7 linked regions of the Homo sapiens genome follow. The protein of the gene in region 1 purifies or fractionates together with the protein of each later gene. This does not show direct contact. Each region holds a gene or a part of one and is shown in the gene's direction. Other genes may lie near its edges. The genes, in order: ALAD, TOM1L1, SEPTIN10, STAT5B, WDR4, AGFG1 and EFL1.

Region 1 (2,737 bases):
CCAAAAGAGGAAATGACTTGCCCAAGAAATAGAGTTTCCCAAAGCTGGGCTCCGTCTCATGTGGTGTGCCCACAGGCTGTGCTTCTTCATGGTAGCCTTCTTCCCCGCCTGGCCTTCCCATCGCAGAAGGTGTGCTCAGAGCTGATCAGCGTCCCCCCAGCAACTTTCTGCATCTCTCCCAACACAGGTGCTGACATCATCATCACCTACTACACACCGCAGCTGCTGCAGTGGCTGAAGGAGGAATGATGGAGACAGTGCCAGGCCCAAGAACTAGAACTTTAAAACGTTCCCGGGGCCTCAGACAAGTGAAAACCAAAGTAAATGCTGCTTTTAGAACTGTGCCCTCATGCCCTCTTCCTGCTCACATGCTAGCGGGGCCCAGCAGCCCTGGGTGGTTTTGCCAGCATGCTAACTCTTGTAACTCGCAGCTGCATCCTATGAGCTCTCCCAAGCTTCCCCGCCCCTCCCCTGGGTCAGCCGTGAGGCCCACCTTTGCCACCCTCAGCTCTTTCCTCTGGTGTGGCTTCAGCTTGAAAGCAACCTGGAGTCGGGGGCACAGCCTTTGGGGCCTGGCTGGGAGAGGGTCTTGGAGCATTAGGGGAAGAAGAGAGCAGTGGGATCTTGGGGCCTGAGAAGCCTTGGAACGCTTCTGGCAGCAGAGCTGGGTGTGGGAATGAGGCCTAGATCGATATCCCTGGGTTAGAGTTGAAATTTGCCGCAATTCCACTGGAAGGCATTTCCCACGAGGCCAGAGGTTGCCAGGCTGCCTGAGGTCTCCTATTCTACTCTGAACCATAAACCCAGAGAAGAATTACTCATTAACCAGCATAAATACTGCCTGAGGATCAAAACTCAGAGGCAAAGAGGGAGTTCCTGACTGCTAGAGGTGCCACCACCACAAACACTTTTTATTCAGGAGATACTTTTTGAGAATCTCTGCTCTGTTCCTAGGTTCAGTGCTGGGTCCTGGGAATACAGCAGGACAGACCTCAGCTTATCTCTTCATAGAAATTATACAAAGAGAATTGGGGAGACAGCTAAGAAGAAAACAAAGAAATAAAGCAGTTACAAATTGTGATAAGTGCTTTGAAGGAAAGAAGGGGTCTGAGACAACAACAGGGAAGGGGCCTCTCTTGAAACAGTAGTTGGGAAGGAGGCAGACATGCACCAGTGATGTGGTGACAGGTGCTCTGAAGGAGGTCACCAGGACCTGACCTCTTTGAAGGATCAGAAAATACTTCCCTGAAGGACTGACATTTGAGCCTAGACCTGAAGGGTGAGCCATCAAGCTAAGACAATTGGGGAAGAGCATTCCAGGGAGAGGGAGGAGTTGTGCAAAGGCCCTGGGGCTCCTTCTAGCTGGAGGAATGCAAGGCTAGCTTGTCTGGAGCACTGAGAGGATGGCCTGAACTGAGTGGAGAGAGACAGACCAGGACCAAACCATGCAGAGGTCAAGGGCCACATTCACCTTTTCAGAGTGACTCAATCAAATTTGTAGTTTGTAAAAGTATTTTAACAGCTCTGCGGCAAAGTGCAAATGAAAAGTCTTGATGGCATGGACTGGAGCGGGGACAGTGGGGATGGAGAAAGGGGAATGGATTGTGGATGTGTTTAGAAGGTAGATTCGATGTGAAGGATGAATCTGGCTTGACCTTCTGGGTGGCTGATGGGCCATTTACTGAGATGGGGCAGCCTGGAAGAGGAACAGAAGCAGGGTCGGGGTGGAGGGAGAATACTAAACTTAGCTTGAGACATTTTGCAATAAGGAAGCTATATCTAGAGTGCTTATGTGACTCACCTAAGGCCACTCAACAAGTTTGTGGCAGAACTGGATTAGAACTGCACAGAAAACAGCCAAGCTGGGATTTGAACCCATGTAGTCCAACTCCAAGGCCTCTGCCCCTAACCACTGTGCCATACCACCTCCCAATAATCAACAGCAAAATTATAGGTCTAACAATGTTTTATAGACACCCCTCCATTTATGTGATGGGTTTGCATCCTGATAAACCCATCATAAGTTGAAAATATGATCATAAGTTGAAAATATGATCATAAGTCAAAAATGTATTTAATATACCTAACCTACCAAACATCATAGCTTAGCCTAGCCTGCCTTAAACATGCTCAGAACACTTACATTAGCCTACAGTGGGCAAAACTATCCAACACAAAATCTATATTGTAATAAAGTTGTAAAGAATTTTGAATAAAAATTCAATATTTGAAGTACAGTTTCTACTGAATGTCTTGTTTCATACTGTTGTAAAGTCAAAAATTGTGAATTGAATGATCACAGTTCGGGGACCATCTGCAATTAGCCCCAGTTATACGGGGAGACCAAGGAGACCAGGCACCTACTTGGTTGCAAGTGATGGAAATCCAGTTCAATAGCAAAGAAGGACATGATTGGTTTTCATAACTGGATTGAGATAAGGACAGGTGTGGTTGGGCCCAGGGTCAAACCCCATGGAGGTCTCTGTCCCTTTCTAACTCTCGTCTGTGTTTGCCCCAGCTTTATACTCAGGTGGGTTTTTGCCACTTGCCAGCAACATGATCCTCAATAATTCTAGGCTTAAATAGTCGTTAAGATTTGTAATCCCAGAGAAAGAGCCTTCCTGTCCCATCACTCACATAGCAAATCTCTGGAGGTCTCTGATTGGGCCTGTTCAGGCCACATGGTCCACTCTTGGCTCAGTCACTGTAAACAATGGGATGGGAGATGGCGCCACAA
Region 2 (3,500 bases), on another chromosome or scaffold:
CGTTTTCTCTTGCAAATATTTCGGTTTTGTTGTTGAAAGAGTGTTTTCATCATTCATTAGGCACCCTCTATCTTTTGAAGACTTGTCAGGTTGAAATATTGGGGCAGCTGCTTGCTTCAACATGTGGAGTATCCATAAATCCACTATAATTTTTCTCCTCTTGGCAGTTTCTTTAATAGTTTCAAATTTTGTCACTGTGAAGCTCAAATTCCTTCCTTCTAAAAGATTGAAAAAGGCCGGGCGCAGTGGCTCACGCCTGTAATCCCAGCACTTTGGGAGGCCGAGGCGGGCGGATCATGAGGTCGGGAGATGGAGACCATCCTGGCTAACACGTTGAAACCCCATCTCTACTAAAAAATACAAAAAAAATTAGCCAGGCATGGTGGCGGGTGCCTGTAGTACCAGCTACTTGGGAGGCTGAGGCAGGAGAATGGCGTGAGCCTGGGAGGTGGAGCTTGCAGTGAGCAGAGATCATGCCACTGCACTCCAGCCTGGGTAACAAAGCAAGACTCTATCTCAAAAAAAAAAAAAAAAAAAAAATTGAAAAAGAGAGATTGTGTCCTTCTTTAGGAATATCTCCAGCTCCCAGTGCCAGTATTTGATGAAACCATCAAATATTATCAAGAAGCTGGTTGACTCCCGGTGGTGACCTATTTCTGAGCAATTATTTCTAGTAACCAGGAAACAATCTAGCAGTCTTTTTTCCTCCCTGTCCCAGGACAATTTTTTTCCTTCTGAATGTCAACTCACCCATGTTTAAGCTGTATTCTTATAGCATGTGCTATCGTTTGTTCTTAAACTTCTTAAACTTTCGAGAATCGAAGTTATAAGAAAAAAGTCATTAAGAAGAGCAAACTGGTTTGCTTGTAGTCAATTACAAGTTATTCTAAGGAACACAATTCTGGTAATTTTCCTGGGCATATTAAAGTGATAACTGGCAGTAAAAGAGATTTAGTCTAGCTTATGTTGATAAAGAAAACATCAAACTTAATTATTGATTATAAATAAATGGAAAGCGCTTATGGTTAGTACTTTTAAGTGTGTATGGTTTTTTTCCTATAATCCTATTTACCATGTTTAGTTCCTCTGGGAACATTTTCATTGATAATACCAATTCATTGATAATACAAAAAGAGAATCTTAAAGTAAATTTGGACCCTTATAAACAGTCCTTTCTTTGTAACATAAAATTGTGGCGTATTGGCAGCTGACCTAGTTTGTTGTAATTCCTGTTACATCCCCTTGTCTATAGGGTGCTCAGGAAATACTAATAGTTTTAATAAAAATGGTAACATTCATTGTTTCGGAAGTTGCATTTCCTATAAGTTGGTTCTGTGCATTGATAGAGGGATACAGGAATGAGTGCATTTCATGGGTAGTACTTTCTAGGTAATAGTCTTGTACGAAAATATTTTATTTGATTCTCATAAGGGGTTAGGTGGTATTGTCTGCCTGTATGCGTGAAGAAATTTAGGTTCAAGAAGTTAAGTCATTCGCATAGGGTCCCACAGTAGAACCAAGGCCTTAGTTTTCTGCTCCTTAGCCATTCCTCTCTCCAAATGCATGTTGCTTTTCAGAGAGACTGCTTGTTTTCAGCAATGCCTAAATTGGTGATTTCAGTGTATTTATTGCTATAGGCCAAAAGATGCAGTGAAAGCTTTGAAGAAAAGGATTTCCAAAAACTACAATCATAAAGAAATCCAACTTACCTTGTCAGTAAGTACTTTAATTTTATAATTAAGACTCGAGGATTTCTCAAGCTATAGTTACATTTTTAATCCTGGGTAAAAAATAAGAAGCAAGTATTCTGAGAAAACTAATAGGTTAGCTAGGAGTTGTGTACAGTATGACTTAAAACTCTTCATTTATGAGAATTGCAGAATAAAGAAAGTTTAGTTGTTTATAATAGCATTTAATAGCATTTAATTTCATGGAAGGAGCTTGTTCCTGAAAAATCAATTTTTCTTGGTCAGGAGATAGGAATTAGTGGTTAACATGTATTACACATGGTGAACTGATCAAGAAGTTTGTGTAGTGGCTGGGTGTGGTGGCTCCTGCCTATAATCCTAGCACTTTGGGAGGCCGAGGTGGGATGATCGCTTGAGCCCAGGAGTTTGAGAACAGCCTGGGCAAGATGGTGAGAGCCCGTCTCTACAAAATGTTTAAAAATTAGCCAGATGTGGTGGCCTGCATCTGTAGTCCCAGCCACTTAGGAGGCTGAGGCAGGACAATCACTTGAGCCCAGGAATTCAAGATGGCAACGAGCTATGATCATGCCACTGCAACTCAGCCTGAGTGATAAAGAGAAACCTCAACTCTTAAAAAAAAAGTTTGTGGCTGGGTACGGTGGCTCACACCTGTAATCCCAGCACTTCGGGAGGCCGAGGCAGGTGGATCACCTGAGGTCAGAAGTTCGAGACCAGCCTGACCAATATGGTGAAACCCCGTCTCTACTAAAAATACAAAAAGTAGCAGGGCGTGGTGGCGTGTGCCTGTAGTCCCAGCTACTTGGGAGTCTGAGACAGGAGAATTGCCTGAACCTGGGAGGTGGAGATTGCGGTGAGTCGAGATCGCACCACTGTCCTCCAGTCCTCCAGCTTGAGCAACAGAGCAAGACTCCTTCTCAAAAAAAAAAAAAAAAAGTTTGTGCATGTATTAATTAACCATAATTTAAGATGAGGAGAATTGAAATTTTGAAAAATACCTCCCTGTAAGCTTTCTGCCTTACTTGAACAGCTTTGTGGAATCCTGAGATGCTCTCAGCTCATTAAATTCCAAACAAGTTCTGCTGCCTGGCGTGATTTGGAGAATGTTCTATGTTGGTTTAAGCAATTCTCCTGTGTGTTGTATTGTCTGTGATTTAAGTGTGGACTCTTATTTGATGTGTTCCCATTTTCCCACCATCCTTGGCAATATGACCTCTTCAGTCACGTTGGTGAGTTGTCCTTTTTACTTTAGTATGTGTTGCAAGCCCTGCCTGCTGCCTGAGAGTGAGCTGTGTAGCTTTCTGATTTATTCTGCACGCCTTTGTTTATCTCAGCCCAGCCCAAGACTGTGCATGGTCACGGCACTAATCAGCCAACATCACGCTGCGTTAGGAGCATTAGTCTTTATCAAGAGGACTTTGGGGCATATGTGAGCATAGCTCCTGGTTTCTAGTTACATGAAGAAGAAAATGGACATCTTGCATAGGCTCGCTGAATAAGCAGAAATGCTGTGAACGGTCTTCATGATTTGATCATTAAAGAAACCCTTCACATTGGGATCTGAATATAGTTTTAGAGGCATTTTCCCCCTTCACCTTTTTTTTTTTTTTTTGACCTCTTACCTGTCCTTAACTCTTGAAGGTCACAGAATGGAGAAGACGGGAGAGAGGAGTGAGGCACTTCTGTAGAAATCCCAGAATGATGGGTCACTGATAGAAATGCCTGGCACCTGACCAATGCTCTTGACAACCCTGTGAAGTAGTTCTATTATTAACTCCATTTAACAGATGAAGA
Region 3 (3,500 bases), on another chromosome or scaffold:
TTTCTGCTCTCTTTAGGGGGAGAGATAATACAGGTACTGCCCCCATTGAGAATGCATGATCCATGGTTAGCCATCCTAGCAATAGGGCAACATATGTTTTTTCTTCTGAGTCTGCTACTAGATTTGAAAACAGTCTAAGACTAAATACTCTGTACATTATAAGTTAAATGAGGCATTCAAGAACTTACTCAGGACCTTAGCTGTTTGTAATATTGTTTCTATGGAGACTGTAGTCTTACTCCAAGCAGCTTACTAATATGAATTTTTGGAAAATACAAATTATTTGTGTGATTATGATTTATACTACCTTTAAATAAGTAGAATGAAAGCTTTTTACAAAAAGCTCAATATTGAGCTAAATAGTAAACGAAGCGATGGCCATGGATTAGCGGAGAAGAGCAGGCTAGACATTTTAGACAGGAAGAATATTCACTGTCTGACACTGTTTATATGCTGAAACTTAAAATAACATGAGAAGCCTTTCAATTCTTCACTATTCATGAAAGAAATAGCTTTGCTGGGCGTGGTGGCTCATGCCTGTAATCCCAGCACTTTGGGAGGCTGAGGTGGGTGGGTCACCTCCGGTCAGGAGTTTGAGACCAGCCTGGTCAACATGGTAAAACCCTGTGCCTAGTGGTGCGTGCCTGTAGTCCCAGCTACTCGGGAGGCTAAGGCAGGAGAATCGCTTGAACCTGCGAGACGGAGGTTGCAGTGAGCCGACATTGCACCACTGCACTCCAGCCTGAGTGACAGAGTGAGACTCCATCTCAAAAAAAAAAAAAAAAAAAAAAAAAGCTTAAAATTTTTAGTGCAATTTTTTTTTTAATAAAAGGGAACTTTTTAGCTATTATTTTCAACTTTTAGTGGCCTAGTAATCTCTGAAGATCTTTGCAGGTAATAAAGTAGTCAAGATATATTTTTCTGTGGACTTGTCCTTTATGGCTATAACTATGTCCACTATGGTAATTGAATGCTACCAGATGCTGAAGTGCATTCACCATGGCAAGTACTTCCCTTGTGTTATCACATTTTATTTTTTATTTTTTGTTTTTTGAGACAGAGTCTTGCTTTGTCGCCAGACTGGAATGCAGTGGTGCAGTGTTGGCTCACTGCAACCTCTGCCTCCCGGGTTCAAACGATTCTCCTGCCTCAGCCTCCGGAGTAGCTGGGATTACAGGCATGTGCCACCACACCCAGCTAATTTTTGTAGTTCTAGTAGAAGCGGGGTTTCACCATGTTGGCCAGGGTGGTCTCAATCTCTTGACTTTGTAATCCTCCCTCCTTGGTCTCCCAAAGTGCTGGGATTACAGGCATGAGCCACGGCACCCGGCCTGTGTTACCACATTTTATTCTCCCAGCCCATGAGCTGAGTACTGTTATCTCTAGTTTTTTGGATGAGATGCAACTTTCACACATCCTTGCACAAAATGTCTTTTGTTTCCTCCATGTTGTCTTTGTACCTCCTTGCCCCAGACCTCATTCCAGGCTTTGGCAGTTCTTAATGATGCAGCATTTTGCATCTGTTGCTACTATACAGTTAATTCTAACAGCCTTCTTAACATACATTTATACTGATGTCATGCTAACTCTTCTTCTTTGTGACATGGATCATTGAGAGAATTTCTGGGGGCTCTCTGTTTTGGTAGAAGATAGGCTGCTTGTCACATAGTAACAGAAATTCTGTTGTATAGAAAAGAATTATAATTTACAGTTTCCATGTAACTCTGAGGACTAAAGAACCTAATACAGCATTATAATTTGAACAGTTGGAGAAAATAATTTTGTTTTGTATTTGCATATTTTGCTATATATTTTCTTTTTTGTTGATTACAAAAATTATACAGATATTATTTAGCTTATCCTCAGGTATTCTGATTAGCTTTTTTAGCTACACTTTCCCATTTACCTACCTTTTAGTCAGAAAATTATGTTATACTTTTATGAATTAACTTTGTTATTCAAGTACAATTTATTTATTTATTTATTATTATTTTTTGAAATGGAGTTTCACTCTTGTCGCTCAGAGTAGAGTGCAGTGGTACGATCTCAGCTCACTGCAACCTCCATTTCCCGGGTTCAAACGATTCTCCTGCCTCAGCCTCCTGAGTAGCTGGGATTACGGGCACCTGCCACCATGCCTGGCTAATTTTTGTATTTTTAGTAGAGACAGAGTTTCACCATGTTGGGCAGGCTGGTCTCAAACTCCTGACCTCAGGTGATCTGCCTGATCATACTAGTAATATGGTATAATTATATTCAGCCCAAAAACTAAGCCTGACTGGCTTGATGAATTAAGCTGAATCTTTAATGCTCTTATCAGTGTAGAACAATTCAAGTCTCAAGGAATCAATGGAAACTTCAAGAGAAGTGAGAATTACCACTGGGCCACGTATATTTGTTTTTGATAATGTAAAATTTTACATAAAAGTTCTTTGAGGGATCCAAGGTGCTCATAGGAACCTTAAACTCAGTAGTTCCAAAGTTGCATCAAACCTGTGCTGATTCCTCTCCTATTCTCTTTCCTGCTTCACAGTGACGTCTCTCCAGTGACCTTAGTTTGAGTCACTTGGACTCAGAATCATGAAGTCAGCTTCTTGCAGCCTCACCTTTTCTGCTGTCCTTGCATTTACATGTAAGCCTCCTTGGGCTTCAGTGATGAGCTCACTGTGATTTTCCAACCATACCAGTTATATTTGTACCCTTGGCACACGCAGATTCCACTACTGTGTTGTCCCTCCCCTCCCCTCCCCAGAGTCTCGTTCTGTCACCCAGGCTGGAGTGGCTCAATCTTGGCTCACTGTAAGCTCCGCCTCCCCGGTTCATGCCATTCTCCTGCCTCAGCCTCTTGAGTACCTGGGACTACAGGCACCCGCCACCATGCCTGGCTAATTTTTTGTATTTTTACTGGAGACAGGGTTTCACCATGTTAGCCAGGATGGTCTCGATCTCCTGACCTCGTGATCCCACCCGCCTCGGCCTCCCAAAGTGCTAGGATTACAGGCCTCAGCCACCACGCCCGGCCTCTTTTCTTTTCTTTCTTTCTTTTTTCTTTCTTTCTTTTCTCCCCGCCCCGCCCCTCCCCTTCCCTTCCCTTCTTTCCTTTCTTTCTTTTTCTTTCTTTCTTTCTATGGGGTCCCGCTCTGTCACCCAGGCTGGAGTGCAGTGGCGCAGTCTCAACCACTGCAACCTCTGCCTCCTAGGTTCAAGCAATTCTCCTGTCTCAGCCTCCCAAGTTGCTGGGATTACAGGCACACACCACCACACCTGGCTAATTTTTTTTTTAATTCTTTTTTTTTTTTTTTTTTGAGGCAGAGTCTCGCTCTGTCGCCCAGGCTGGAGTGCAGTGGCATGATCTCGGCTCACTGCAATCTCCACCTCCCAGGTTCACACCATTCTCCTGCCTCAGCCTCCCGAGTAGCTGGGACTACAGGCATCTGCCACTATGCCCGGCTAATTTTTTTGTATTTTTAGTAGAGATGGGGTTTCACCGTGTTAGCCAG
Region 4 (2,358 bases), on another chromosome or scaffold:
GCACCCTGGAATTGCCACTCAGTTCCTCTGGGTGTGCACATATGTTTGGAGAAATAGAGGAGAGAAAAGAGGGCCACGTAACTGAGAGCTTACAGTGCCAATGCCGTTTGTGTTCTGGCCAGAGTGGAGTGCGCAGCCCTGACTCCCAGGCGCTGAGATTGTTGCCTGGTTACCCAGGAAGCTGCTGTTCCGGCTGCCCAGCCTTTCTCTGAGCCAGCGGATGCACAGTCCGTGGCCTTCTTCAGGCTTATTGATGATGCTTTTTGCAAATGTTGAATCATGGTTCTGTTTCTAAGTTGGATCTTTTTTGTTTTCTCCTTGCCACCCTAATTTGACATCAAAATTCTCTCTTGTGCATTGGGCCCTGGGTCATTCAAACCCAGGTCACCTCATTCCCCTTCTCTGTTCACACCTAATGTCTTGAAGAGTAGGTAGCAGCAGTGTGGGCTGAACCTAGGCCAGCTTGCTTAGCGGGTCACCCTGCTGTGAAGTCCTGGCAGGTGTTGGTAATGTGTGGAAATGCAGTCAGCAAGTTTGCTGGGGAGTTTGATAAAAGTATAAAACAAAACAAAAAAAGCCTCGGTATAATTTTGTTCCACGACTTCTTCTGTAGCTTTACACCAGAAGGAAGGAATGGGCTACAGCAGGTAGTGGAGGAAGAGGGGGGTGAGCAGGTGTATTAAAATAGCTTACGGGTAAGGCCTAAAAGGTCACCCCTCGGCCCCCTCTCCAAAAGAAGGGCATGGGCACCCCCAGGAGAGGATGGCCCCAAAAACCTTATTTTTATACATGAGAGTAAATAAACATATTTTTTTTACAAAAATAACTTCTGAATTTATCAGTGTTTTGCCGTTAAAAATATTCCTCTATAGTAAATTATTTATTGGAAGATGACTTTTTTAAAGCTGCCGTTTGCCTTGGCTTGGTTTCATACACTGATTTATTTTTCTATGCCAGGCAGTAGAGTCTCTCTGCCTCTGAGGAGCAGGCTACCCGCATCCCACTCAGCCCCTCCCTACCCCTCAAGATTTGATGAAAATTCCAACCATGAGGATGGGTGCATCGGGGAAGGGTGAGAAGGAGAGCCTGCCTGCTCAGGGATCCAGGCTCGTAGAGTCACTCCCTGCCCGTCTCCCAGAGATGCTTCACCAGCACCTGCCTCTGAGACCTCGCTCTCTGTTCCAGCAACCCTGGTTGGGGGGTCAGACTTGATACACTTTCAGGTTGGGAGTGGACCCACCCCAGGGCCTGCTGAGGACAGAGCAGCCAGGCCGTCCTGGCTCACTTTGCAGTTGGCACTGGGTTGGGGAGGAAGAGAGCTGATGAGTGTGGCTTCCCTGAGCTGGGGTTTCCCTGCTTGTCCAGTTGTGAGCTGTCCTCGGTGTTACCGAGGCTGTGCCTAGAGAGTGGAGATTTTTGATGAAAGGTGTGCTCGCTCTCTGCGTTCTATCTTCTCTCTCCTCCTTGTTCCTGCAAACCACAAGATAAAGGTAGTGGTGTGTCTCGACCCCATCAGCCTCTCACCCACTCCCAGACACACACAAGTCCTCAAAAGTTTCAGCTCCGTGTGTGAGATGTGCAGGTTTTTTCTAGGGGGTAGGGGGAGACTAAAATCGAATATAACTTAAAATGAAAGTATACTTTTTATAATTTTTCTTTTTAAAACTTGGTGAAATTATTTCAGATACATATTTTAGTGTCAAGGCAGATTAGTTATTTAGCCACCAAAAAAAAGTATTGTGTACAATTTGGGGCCTCAAATTTGACTCTGCCTCAAAAAAAAGAAATATATCCTATGCAGAGTTACAGTCACAAAGTTGTGTATTTTATGTTACAATAAAGCCTTCCTCTGAAGGGATGGTATTGAGTCCTGTTTTTACTTTTTTCTGTCACATGCCAAGGGAGGGCAGCTTGAACACGGAAAAGTTTCAAGTCATCAGCGTGACCCTGAAAAAGGGAACTGGTTGGGTGGTTGGGAGTTGGCTGCCTCAGAGGGCACGTCATTAGCTCTGATGGCAGATGGGGCCTTTCATACCTTCCTGCTCATATGATGTTTTGAAAATAAGAATGATGGTCTCCTAGCCTCCTGACTCCAGAAAGCTTGTTAGCCAGGATGGTCTCGATCTCCTGACCTCATGATCTGCCCACCTCAGCCTCCCAAAGTGCTGGGATTACAGGCGTGAGCCACTACGCCCGGCTGAAAGCCTGTCCTTAAGATTCAGCACATTTAGAGTACCTGACCCTGAGTTCAGCGTTGTGTGTGGGATGAGAAATGGTGCCTTCCCTGCAGAGGCTCACAGTTGGAGAAAGGCAGCTACCACAACTGATTATGCTAGGATATCGCTTCCTGCTGCAATC
Region 5 (3,500 bases), on another chromosome or scaffold:
AGGTTAGGCATTAAGAGTACATTGTTGGCTGAGCACGGTGGCTTATGCCTGTAATCCCAGCACTTTGGGAGGCCAAGGTGGGTGGATCACCTGAGGTCAGAATTTCCAGACCATCCTGGCCAACATGGCGAAACCCTGTCTCTACTAAAAATAAAAAAGTTAGCTGGGCGTGGTGGCAGGCACCTGTAATCCCGTCTACTTGGGAGGCTGAGGCACAAGAATCACTTGAACCTGGGAGGCGGAGGTTGCAGAGAGCTGAGATTGCGGCATTGCACTCCAGCCTGGGGAATAGAGCAAGACTCTGTCTCCCAAAAAAAAAAAGAGTACAGTGTTAGTGCCGGGTGCGGTGGCTCATGCCTATAATCTCAGCACTTTGGGAAGCCAGGGTGCTGACTGAGGTCAGAAGTTCAAAGCCAGCCTTGCCAATGTGATGAAACTCCATCTCTACTAAAAATAGCCAGGCATGCTGGTGGGCGCCTGTAGTCCCAGCTACTTGGGAGGCTGAGGTGGGAGAATCACTTGAACCTAGGAGGCGGAGGTTGCAGTCGGCCGAGGTTGCGCCACCGCACTCTCCAACCTGGGTGACACAGCAAGACTCCGTCTCAAAAAAAAAAAAAAAAAAAGCACAGTGTTAGGACTTTTCTAAATACTTTTAGTTTCTGTCAGTAATCACATCTTACTGGCTCCTTGAAGTAATGGTTGAAGGCGGGTGTAGGAAGTTAACTTCAGCTAATTGAGATATAAAAGTAGAGCATGTGAGTGTTTCGTATGGTGGCTTTCTTTAGTTATCATTGGTATTGTGGCTCAGTTTGTTTTATCGTTATTATTATTTTTTGAGACAGGGTCTCTCTGTTACCCCGGTTGGAGTGCAGTTGCACAAACATAACTCCCTGCAGCCTCGACCTCCTGGGTTCAGGTGATCTCCCGCCTCATCCCCCTAAGTACCTGGGACTACAGGCACATGCCAACATACCTAATTTTTTTTTGAGATGGAGTCTTGCCCTGTTGCCAGGCTGGAGTGCAGTGGCGCTATCTTGGCTCACTGCAACCTCCACCTCCCTGGTTTAAGTGGTTCTCCTGACTCAGCCTCCTGAGTAGCTGGGACTACAGGCACGCACCACCATGCCCGGCTAATTTTTTTTTTGTATTTTTAGTAGAGACGAGGTTTTACCATGTTGGCCAGGATGGTCTCGATCTCCTGACCTCGTGATCCACCTGCCTTGGCCTCCCAAAGTGCTGGGATTACAGGTGTGAGGCACCGCGCCAGGGCTGCCTAATTTTTGTAGTTTTTTGTAGAGACGTGGTTTCGCCATGTTACCCAGGCTGGTCTTGAACTCCTGAGCTCAAGCGATCCTCTCGCCTTGTCCTCCCAAAGTATTGGGGGAAATTCAGCCAGATATTGGGCAAAATTCACCCCCGATATTTCACGTAGGTTCTTTTCAATTTTCCCTAAGCGTCGGCCGGTTTGAGAAATAAAGGGACAGAGTACAAAAGAGAGAAATTTTAAAGCTGGGCGTCCGGGGGAGACATCACATGTCGGTAGGTTCCGTGATGCCTCCTGAGCCGTAAAACCAGCAAGTTTTTATTAGGGATTTTCAGAAGGGGAGGGAGTGTACGAATAGGTGTGGGTCACAGAGATCACATGCTTCACAAGGTAATAGAATATCACGAGGCAAATGGAGGCAGGGCGAGATCGCAGGACCACAGGACCGGGGCAAAATTAAAATTGCTAATAAGTTTCGGGCACCACTGTCATTGATAACATCTTATCAGGAGACAGGGTTTGAGAGTAACCGGTCTGACCAAAATTTATTAGGCGGGAATCTCCTCATCCTAGTAAGCCTGGGAGCGCTATGGGAGACTGGGGCTTATTTCATCCCTACAGTCTCGACCAGAAGATGGCCACACCCAAGGGGGCCATTTCAGAGGCCCACCCTCAGGGGCGCATTCTCTTTCTCAGGGATGTTCCTTGCTGAGAAAAAGAATTCAGCTATATATCTCCCATTTGCTTTTGAAGGAAGAGAAATATGGCTCTGTTCCGCCTGGCTCACCAGCGGTCAGAGTTTAAGGTTATCTCTCTTGTTCCCTGAACATTGCTGTTATCCTGTTCTTTTTCAAGGTGCCCAGATTTCATATTGTTCAAACACACATGCTCTACAATTTGTGCAGTCAACGCAATTATCACAGGGTCCCGAGGTGACATACATCCTCCTCGGCTGACAGGATTAAGAGATTAAAGTAAAGACAGGCATAGGAAATCACAAGGGTATTGACTGGGGAAGTGATAAGTGTCTATGAAATCTTCACAATTTATGTTTAGGGATTGCAGTAAAGACAGGCATAAGAAATTATAAAAGTATTAATTTGGGGAACTAATAAATGTCCATGAAATCTTCACAATCCACATTCTTCTGCCATGGCTTCAGCTGGTCCCTCCGTTTGGGGTCCCTGACTTCTCGCAACACCAAAGTGCTGAGATTATAGGTCTGAGCTACCATACCTGGCCTGTTATTAGTATTGTTAATGTGAGTTTATCCCTGCCTCTAGCCTTGGGTTAGTCCTTGCCCATGAGGAAGAGGGCCATGTGTCATTGAGGGTTCTTCCAGCTTAGCTCTCTGGGTTCTGGCATGTATGCTGGGAGATTTTCTGTTTAGTTAGGCTTCATGCTGATAAAATTAGAGCTGTTTTGAACTTCCCCATGTCCCTTTAATATGTCTGTATTTTGGCTACGTGATCCCCTTAACAGTTTCTACCTCCTCCCATGTTAGAAATTACCACGCTGGCCAACAAGGAATGCAGCCTTATTTCCTTAGGTGAAGCTTAACCGTCTTCCTCCTCTCTTCCTCAGGGAGGACGCGCCCTTGGACCAGGGGAGCGGTGCGATTCTGGCGTCCACCTTCTCCAAGTCTGGCAGCTATTTTGCTTTAACCGATGACAGTAAGCGTCTGATTCTTTTCCGTACAAAACCATGGCAATGTCTGAGTGTCAGGTATGAGATGCTAACGCTGGATTCTTAAGATGTCGAATGCACACCTTATCCTTGCATGCCTGTAGCAATAGTGACCATAACATGGTGATAAGGGTGATAAGTGGTTGACACGGAGCCGCAGTTCAGTGCCAGACACCACTTTCAGTGCCACATGTGTGTTGGCTGATCTGATCCTCACGGCAGTTCTGGGAGGGTGCAGGGGTGCTGTTCTGTCCCACGCTGGGTGGTGAACAGTTAGATAGCAGACTCCGATCAGTGGGCTCGGAAGACAGAGCCGGGCCCTGCTGCTGGTCCCTCCACCTACAGTGTTGGTGCCCCTGTTTTCCAGGGCAGTCCTCTGTCCTTGTGATTAGCAGGAACAAGGCTGTGAGCCTGCCCTGGAGAGTGATAGGGATTTGGGGTCTGTTGAGGGGTCTGTACCATAGTATTAAGCTAGGTGGGTTTAGTGCACATATGTCTGAGTATCTGAAGAGTGGATGGGGAGTGGATCCGTGGGGATGGGGAGGCCAGT
Region 6 (3,500 bases), on another chromosome or scaffold:
TATCACAGTGGTATGTATAACAACTAATCCTGTCCAGTATGGTCCAGGTTATTTATTAGATTAATGATTTGGAATCCTGCTTAACTCTAAATCCATTTTAAGTTTACCTGTGTTTCATGGCAAATGTGGTTGATAAGTTGAAAGTGTAACTTTAAATTTTTGGTGTAACTTGATTTTGTTCGTTCCCAGGTGGTGATCAGGGAAGTGGCTTTGGGACCACAGGTAAAGCTCCTGTTGGTTCTGTGGTTTCAGTTCCCAGTCAGTCAAGTGCATCTTCAGACAAGTATGCAGCTCTGGCAGAACTAGACAGCGTTTTCAGTTCTGCAGCCACCTCCAGTAATGCGTATACTTCCACAAGTAATGCTAGCAGGTACCTTGTCTTAGCTAGCCCTCCTGCTTTGTGTTTTATCTTTTTTTTCCAACTTTGAATAATCAATTAAAAAATGACTGTTTCAAGGTATAATTTTAAAATTCTTGGATATTTTTGTAAATTTGAGGAATTTGAATTTAAATGCTAATTAAAATATAATCCTTGAATAATTGCCATAATTTTATCTTTTCATTGAATCAGACGTTTTGTTATGTTCTGTCCTTGAACACTAAACCGTATTTGAGAGCATGTACACATCTCAAAATGGACAGTTCCTTACAGATTGTACTCAGCAGAGAATCCATTTAGTAGTCAAATAATATACTTTAAAAATAGTTTTTAGTCATGATGATTAAACAGTGAAAGTCCCATATTATAGGCTTAGTTGTAAATACAGATTTTTAGAAGTGTTTGCACCAAAGCCCAAAATCAATTCTGTATCTCTTCAGTGTCATCCTCATATTTACAAATAAGCACATCTGCTGTTATGTTCATATATATCTGTTAGAATTCTTGGCAGTAGGAAGTCTAACACATTTTAGGACATTACACTTGTAAAAAACTTTTCTAGTCTTTATTTTAGAGTTGCGGAAATAGTCTCAGAAATACAAGAGATTTACCTATAACAATGTTTTATTCATCTCTGTTTTCCAATCCTGTGGATTGTATTTACTAATTTCTTTAGTTATCCTGGTAGCTTATTTTCCTTTAGCATCTTTTCTAGAAAGAAATGTTAGGATTGTAACACTTCCGGAAACATAAAGTCTGGAAACATACTTTATATATAATACATGATTTATTGATATTACATTACAGTACATCAGGGGTTCACAAACTGTGGTCCATGGAATGTTTGGGGTACCTGAGACCCTTTCATGGGGTCTGTGAGGTTAAAACTTTCTTTATAATAATTCTGAGAGATTGTTTACCTTTTCATTAATTGATATTTGCATTGATGGTGTGAAAACAATGGCAAGTAAAACTTGCTGGTGTCTTTTTATTTTTTTTTAATACTTTAAGTTCTAGGGTACATGTGCACAACGTGCAGGTTTGTTACATAGGTATACATGTGCCATGTTGGTTTGCTGCACCCATCAACTCATCATTTACATTAGGTATTTCTCCTAATGCTATCCCTCCCCCAGCCCCCCACCCCCGACAGGCCCCCAAGTGTGATGTTTCCCACCCTGTGTCCATGTGTTGTTCTTGTTGTTCAACTCACACCTATGAGTGAAAACATGCAGTGTTTGGTTTTCTGTCCTTGTGATATAGTTTGCTTAGAATAATGGTTTTTGCTGGTGTTTTAACATGAATATTAAGATAGTGGCACCAAACTGTACTAGTCGTTACAATAGTCATATTCCTTCCCACTACACATTCAGTTTTACTTGTATTTTTTATTTTTTTATGATGATTCTTAATGAAGCAGTAACAATTGTTTATTTTATTACATCTTTACACTTAAATGTCTTAATTTTCTTTGTGTTGATACTGATGCTGTGATACACGATATGTTCATTATTTTATGGCTACCCTGTAAATCGTTACTTTCTTTTTTTTTTAAGAAAAAAAATGAACTCTTTCAATATTTGTTCTCAGCAATGTTTTTGGAACAGTGCCAGTGGTTGCTTCTGCACAGACACAGCCTGCTTCATCAAGTGTGCCTGCTCCATTTGGAGGTATGTGCTTCTGGTATATACACTGGTTTTTACAAAGAACCCAAATATATATTGTGTAGCATTTTCTTAGGAGTCAAAGCAATGATTTGTTATCAGAATCCTTGAGTTTTCTGTCTTGATAAATATAGTGAAATAATTTAAATCTTAAATACAAAATGTATTAGGATTTTATAGTGTATTTTATAATTTTTTAAAGCTACGCCTTCCACAAATCCATTTGTTGCTGCTGCTGGTCCTTCTGTGGCATCTTCTACAAACCCATTTCAGACCAATGCCAGAGGAGCAACAGGTAAGAAAAAGAGACAGTGGAACAGTAAGTTTTGGGGAAGACATTTATCAACAAAGACACCATGTGAAGAACACCAGAAAATGGGGCCTCTTTCTTAGTGAAGTGAATGGCAATGGATAGAAGAGTTTGTCCATAAAGACAAATTCTAGCTGAAAGTTCATAAAATCCTGGAATTTAACAGTTGAGAGGGACCTTAGAAATTATCTAGTGTCTGCCCTTTCCAGTTAAAGCTTTCATTTTTCAGGTAGGGAAGCCCAGACATGGAGATGAGACTCCACAGAACGTTTATGACAGAGATAGGACTTGAACAGAGCAATTTAGATGTATTTGGTGGTCTGGTTTCAGAATTACTGGTTGTCACTCATGCAGTCTTAATGGAACCATTTTATGAGAAGTTTTTATTTTCCCTATGAGATTGCATCAGATGACTTTACTACATGAATTCTTAATTATTAGGTCTTTTTCTAGTGAATATCTCTTTCAGGTGTTAACATTTTTTAAGTTGTGGAAACTTGATTCAGTCGTGGGTATAATACTGAATATTTTCTCTTTTGATAATTTTTTCCCTTAATTCTCTTTGTTGTCTCCATTTTATTTTTTGATTCATACTGTAAGCCATTCACATCTTTCTCATGTTATACCTCTGATTTTTGTCGTATTACCTTAAACACCAGAGATATTTGCCAGTATCTTGGAATGTCAGCAGGTGCATTTGGTATGGCTGGGTATCCATTAAATCTAGAGTTTGTATGCTTTGTTTTTGTGTATATGTCACAATAATTTAGAACTAAAGCCTAAACTCCAGTTATAGCAAATGTTGATATGAACTCTTGAGAGATTAGGTACTTGTAACATTTTAATCAAACCATTAAGAATTACTAGTTTTTAGTAAATCTCTTTGTCATTGACAAGATTAAGAATCACAGTATTAGGAGTTTGAGCTGTAACTATTTTCTTTTCACATAAATGTCTTCACTTATACTCTGTTGGTAAGTAGCATAATAGATGTTTGATAAGTATTGGAATTTCACACAAAATTTAACTTTAAAAAAAGTTTAATTCAAGTGTACCTAATGAATGATTGTTTTAAATTTCCATTTGTACAATTTATCAGGTGTGTGATATGTGCAGTGTTTCTGTTTCTTAGCATACTGTTTTGATT
Region 7 (3,500 bases), on another chromosome or scaffold:
GGGAAGCTAGGCAGGACAGTTGCATAAACCCAGGAGTTTGAGGCTGCAAAGAGCTGTGACAGCAACTGCACTCCGGCCTGGTGGATAGCACAAGACGCCATCTCTTCAAAAACAACAACAATAACAACAAAACCTATGAGATATTGGAGAAAACTTAAATGGAAGGATATACCATATTTACGTATTGGCTGTCTATTTTTTAAATGACATTTAAAAAATATTGATCTGTAGATTCAGCAATTCCAGTAAAAATTCCAACAGATTTTTAAAAATTTCAACTTGATATGCTGATTTAAAAATATATACAGAAGAGCAAATAAACCAATTAATAGCCGGGACTGAAGAAGAGTAAGATATGGAAATACATCTTACCCACTGGCAAGACTTATCAATGTGTTGATGTGTTGTAACCTGTGGCCTGGAATCGGCTGAGGCATGAAATTGACTGACGGCTCAGAATAGTAGGCTGGCATTTCAGATCTGTGGGAAAAAGATGAACCTTTCAAGTGGTTCTTGGGCAACTGGTTATCCCTGTGGAAAAAAAAATTGGACCTCTAGTTAACACCACACACAAATTGCACAGTTAAGACATTTTTATTTAAAAGCTTTTTTATTTAAAAACTAAAGCTTTTAGAAAATAATATGGGCTAATATTTTTATGACCTTAAAGGAAGATTTCTTAAGACAAAAATGTGCAAACAATTTTATAAAAGGTTAATAAACTACTTAAAATTAAGTACATATTCATCAAAGATGCCAGAAAGAAATGGAAAAAACAAGCCTGGTAACTGTGAAAAATATTAATAACACACATATAATTGACAAAGGACTAATATTCAGAGACTATAAATAACTCCTATCCAAAACAAAATAAATCTGTATTGCAACCAGTAGGAAGGTGGACAAAAGCCTTGTATAGGCAATTCACAGAAAAGGAATGTTAAATGGCCAGTAAAAAACTTACAAAAGGATACTTAATCCCATTAATAATAGGATAAATGTAAATTTAAAACCATGAGATGCTATTTATCACCCATCTTACTTAGAAAATAAAGTCCAGCAATATCAGCTGTGGAGGTTATGGATCAAGAAACGCACTATTCCACTGTGGATCAGTCCAACAATTTGGAAAATAATTTGGAAATATCAAGTTAGGTTGAGGATGTGCAGATTTAATAACTCAGAAATTCTACTGGTAGGGAGTGTACAAGAGACCCACAACTGTTCATATCAACTCAGTAATAGTTACAAAAAACTGGAATCAGTCTCCATGTCCATCAGTACCCACCAGTTGAAGGTCTACATCTCATTCTCTAGACCTTGAAGTACATCAGTACTGACAGTGGTTTCATTTAAATAAAGATCCCATCCTTTTCCAACTCCTTAGCCCTAAGCACCAGACTAACCTCCTCCTCCTTTCTCCAGAATGATTTTCCCTTACCCTTCCTTCATTCTCTACAATGGACGAATGGGTCTGGTAGATTTGTGAGGTGGAGTCCTACAGTAATAAAAATGAATAAATTACGTCAATGTGGCTGAATCTCAGGAAAACAATATTGAGCAGAGAAAAAGTGACAGTATAATATATTAAGTATGATTCTTATAGAAGGCTTAAAACTTGCCACTCTAAATGATATATTGCTTAGTGACACACTCATTTTTAAAAATTATAAAGAAAATAAGGAAATGATCAAGATAAAATTCAAGATAGTGGTTACCTGTAAGCCAGGGGCACAGGGTACTTCAAAAGTAACAAACATTTTTTTTTTTCCTTTTGAAATGGGATGGTGCATACACAGGGGTTCATTGTGTTGTTATTTATGTATTACACGTTTCATACCAATTCAGTGCTTAAAAACATACATTATAGAAAACTGACAAGGGACTGAGACTTTCTGAAGGAAGGACTGACTGAGAGGTTGGAGAGGTGAAGGGAAACCAGCAGTGGGATCTAAGGAGAGATGGAGGTAAATTAAGAGGTTTCAGACTCTTGGAAGAATTTCACATATGCACGTAACACACATGCACACAAAGGGTAACTGTCATGCTGCACTGGAATCAAGAAAAATGAGGATTGAGAATGATTATTGCGTTTCGCCAGAGGTCATTGATAGCTTTTAGGACTTTGATTTTGCCAGAGCTGTGGAAATGGAAGCTTTTCTGAAAATTTCAGAATTAATATGGATGAATAAATGTGGCAGTTCATATCAACAGATAATTCTTGGTGCTTTTGAATGAAAGAAAGGAGAAAATAGACAGGTTAAGAATTTTTCAAAAGTTTGACAGTGGAGAGAATGGAGGAAGGGTAAGGGAAAATCATTCTGGAGAAAGGAGGAGAAGGTTAGTCTGGTGCTTAGGGCTAAGGAGTTGGAAAGGGATGGGATCTTTATTTAAACGACACCACTGTCAGTACTGATGCACTGCAAGGCCTAGAAAATGAGATGTAGACACTCATTGGTGGGTATTACAGTGTTATGAAAGTCATCAACTAAATGGTCATATTACAAATATTTTCTACTGTATTCTTTTTTTAAAAAAGATGTATTCAAAATCTATTAATTTGGGAAAGGAATAAAGACTTCTCTTGCTTCTAGAGACTTCTGTTTCAGTCTCTGCTCAGAATTTGTCAAACAGCTTATAAATAGGAAAAGAATGGCTATGTTATTGATGTTTAGAAAGAATTCCCTCAAATGCTACTGTCCGTAAGTTGTTCTTGACCTGCCCCATCATTCACGGCTGATATTTGGATGAGCAACACTCTGGGGAGGGTATGCAGTATTTCAATACATTTATGGTTCCTAGTGGTTATGTTTTTCAATTTTTCATGTTCCCTTCCCCTCAATCAACTTCACTTCTCCAGACCCCCATCATCTTAAAAAAAAAAAAAAGAGAGAGGGCTAGGCGCGGTAGCTCATGCCCGTAATGCCAGCACTTTGGGAGACTGAGGTGGGTGGATCACCTCAGGTCAGGAGCTCAAGACCAGCCTGGCCAGCATGGCGAAACCCTGTCTCTACTAAAAATACAAAAATTAGCCAGGTGTGTTAGCACATGCCTGTAATCTCAGCTGTTTGGGAGGCCTGAGGCAAGAGAATCACTTGAACCTGGGAAGTAGAGTTTGCAGTGAGCCGAGATTGTACCATTGCATTCCAGCCTGGGCAACAGAATAAGACTCTGTCTCAAAAAAAAAAAAGGCTCTATATAGGTTAAAATTTAAGTATTGGCTGGGCATGATGGTTCACACCTGTAATCTCAGCACTTTGGGAGGCCACGGTGGGAGGATCACTTGAGGCTAGAAGTTCAAGACTAGTGTGGGCAACATAGCAAGACCCTGTCTCTACAAAAATAAATAAAAATAACAAATTAAATATAAGTATTTAAAACAAAAATCTAAATTAGCAAATTTTAATGTTACATTTTAATTCTTTGGGAAGTGAAGATGCATATGTTGCATTTTTCCAGTTAAGGTACATGGACAGCAGAGAAGATGAACAGATCCGAGG

The links.
Region 2: the proteins of ALAD (region 1) and TOM1L1 fractionate together in Homo sapiens (co-fractionation; one large-scale study listed by BioGRID). This does not show direct contact.
Region 3: the proteins of ALAD (region 1) and SEPTIN10 fractionate together in Homo sapiens (co-fractionation; one large-scale study listed by BioGRID). This does not show direct contact.
Region 4: the proteins of ALAD (region 1) and STAT5B fractionate together in Homo sapiens (co-fractionation; one large-scale study listed by BioGRID). This does not show direct contact.
Region 5: the proteins of ALAD (region 1) and WDR4 fractionate together in Homo sapiens (co-fractionation; one large-scale study listed by BioGRID). This does not show direct contact.
Region 6: the proteins of ALAD (region 1) and AGFG1 fractionate together in Homo sapiens (co-fractionation; one large-scale study listed by BioGRID). This does not show direct contact.
Region 7: the proteins of ALAD (region 1) and EFL1 fractionate together in Homo sapiens (co-fractionation; one large-scale study listed by BioGRID). This does not show direct contact.

What each region holds. Positions count from the first base shown.
Region 1 is NC_000009.12:113,385,812-113,388,548, reverse strand, and holds the end of ALAD (delta-aminolevulinic acid dehydratase), read left to right. Parts: intron 1-187; coding exon 188-249; 3' UTR 250-2,237; downstream 2,238-2,737.
Region 2 is NC_000017.11:54,903,852-54,907,351, forward strand, and holds part of TOM1L1 (TOM1-like protein 1), read left to right. Parts: intron 1-1,637; coding exon 1,638-1,716; intron 1,717-2,927; exon of another isoform or gene 2,928-2,935; intron 2,936-3,500. UniProt on the Homo sapiens protein: Probable adapter protein involved in signaling pathways. Interacts with the SH2 and SH3 domains of various signaling proteins when it is phosphorylated. May promote FYN activation, possibly by disrupting intramolecular SH3-dependent interactions.
Region 3 is NC_000002.12:109,603,967-109,607,466, reverse strand, and holds part of SEPTIN10 (septin-10), read left to right. Parts: intron 1-3,500. UniProt on the Homo sapiens protein: Filament-forming cytoskeletal GTPase. May play a role in cytokinesis.
Region 4 is NC_000017.11:42,198,677-42,201,034, reverse strand, and holds the end of STAT5B (signal transducer and activator of transcription 5B), read left to right. Parts: 3' UTR 1-1,858; downstream 1,859-2,358. UniProt on the Homo sapiens protein: Carries out a dual function: signal transduction and activation of transcription. Mediates cellular responses to the cytokine KITLG/SCF and other growth factors. Binds to the GAS element and activates PRL-induced transcription.
Region 5 is NC_000021.9:42,873,040-42,876,539, reverse strand, and holds part of WDR4 (tRNA (guanine-N(7)-)-methyltransferase non-catalytic subunit WDR4), read left to right. Parts: intron 1-2,848; coding exon 2,849-2,989; intron 2,990-3,500. UniProt on the Homo sapiens protein: Non-catalytic component of the METTL1-WDR4 methyltransferase complex required for the formation of N(7)-methylguanine in a subset of RNA species, such as tRNAs, mRNAs and microRNAs (miRNAs).
Region 6 is NC_000002.12:227,534,656-227,538,155, forward strand, and holds part of AGFG1 (arf-GAP domain and FG repeat-containing protein 1), read left to right. Parts: intron 1-189; coding exon 190-370; intron 371-1,969; coding exon 1,970-2,049; intron 2,050-2,245; coding exon 2,246-2,338; intron 2,339-3,500. UniProt on the Homo sapiens protein: Required for vesicle docking or fusion during acrosome biogenesis. May play a role in RNA trafficking or localization.
Region 7 is NC_000015.10:82,252,735-82,256,234, reverse strand, and holds part of EFL1 (elongation factor-like GTPase 1), read left to right. Parts: intron 1-3,459; coding exon 3,460-3,500. UniProt on the Homo sapiens protein: GTPase involved in the biogenesis of the 60S ribosomal subunit and translational activation of ribosomes.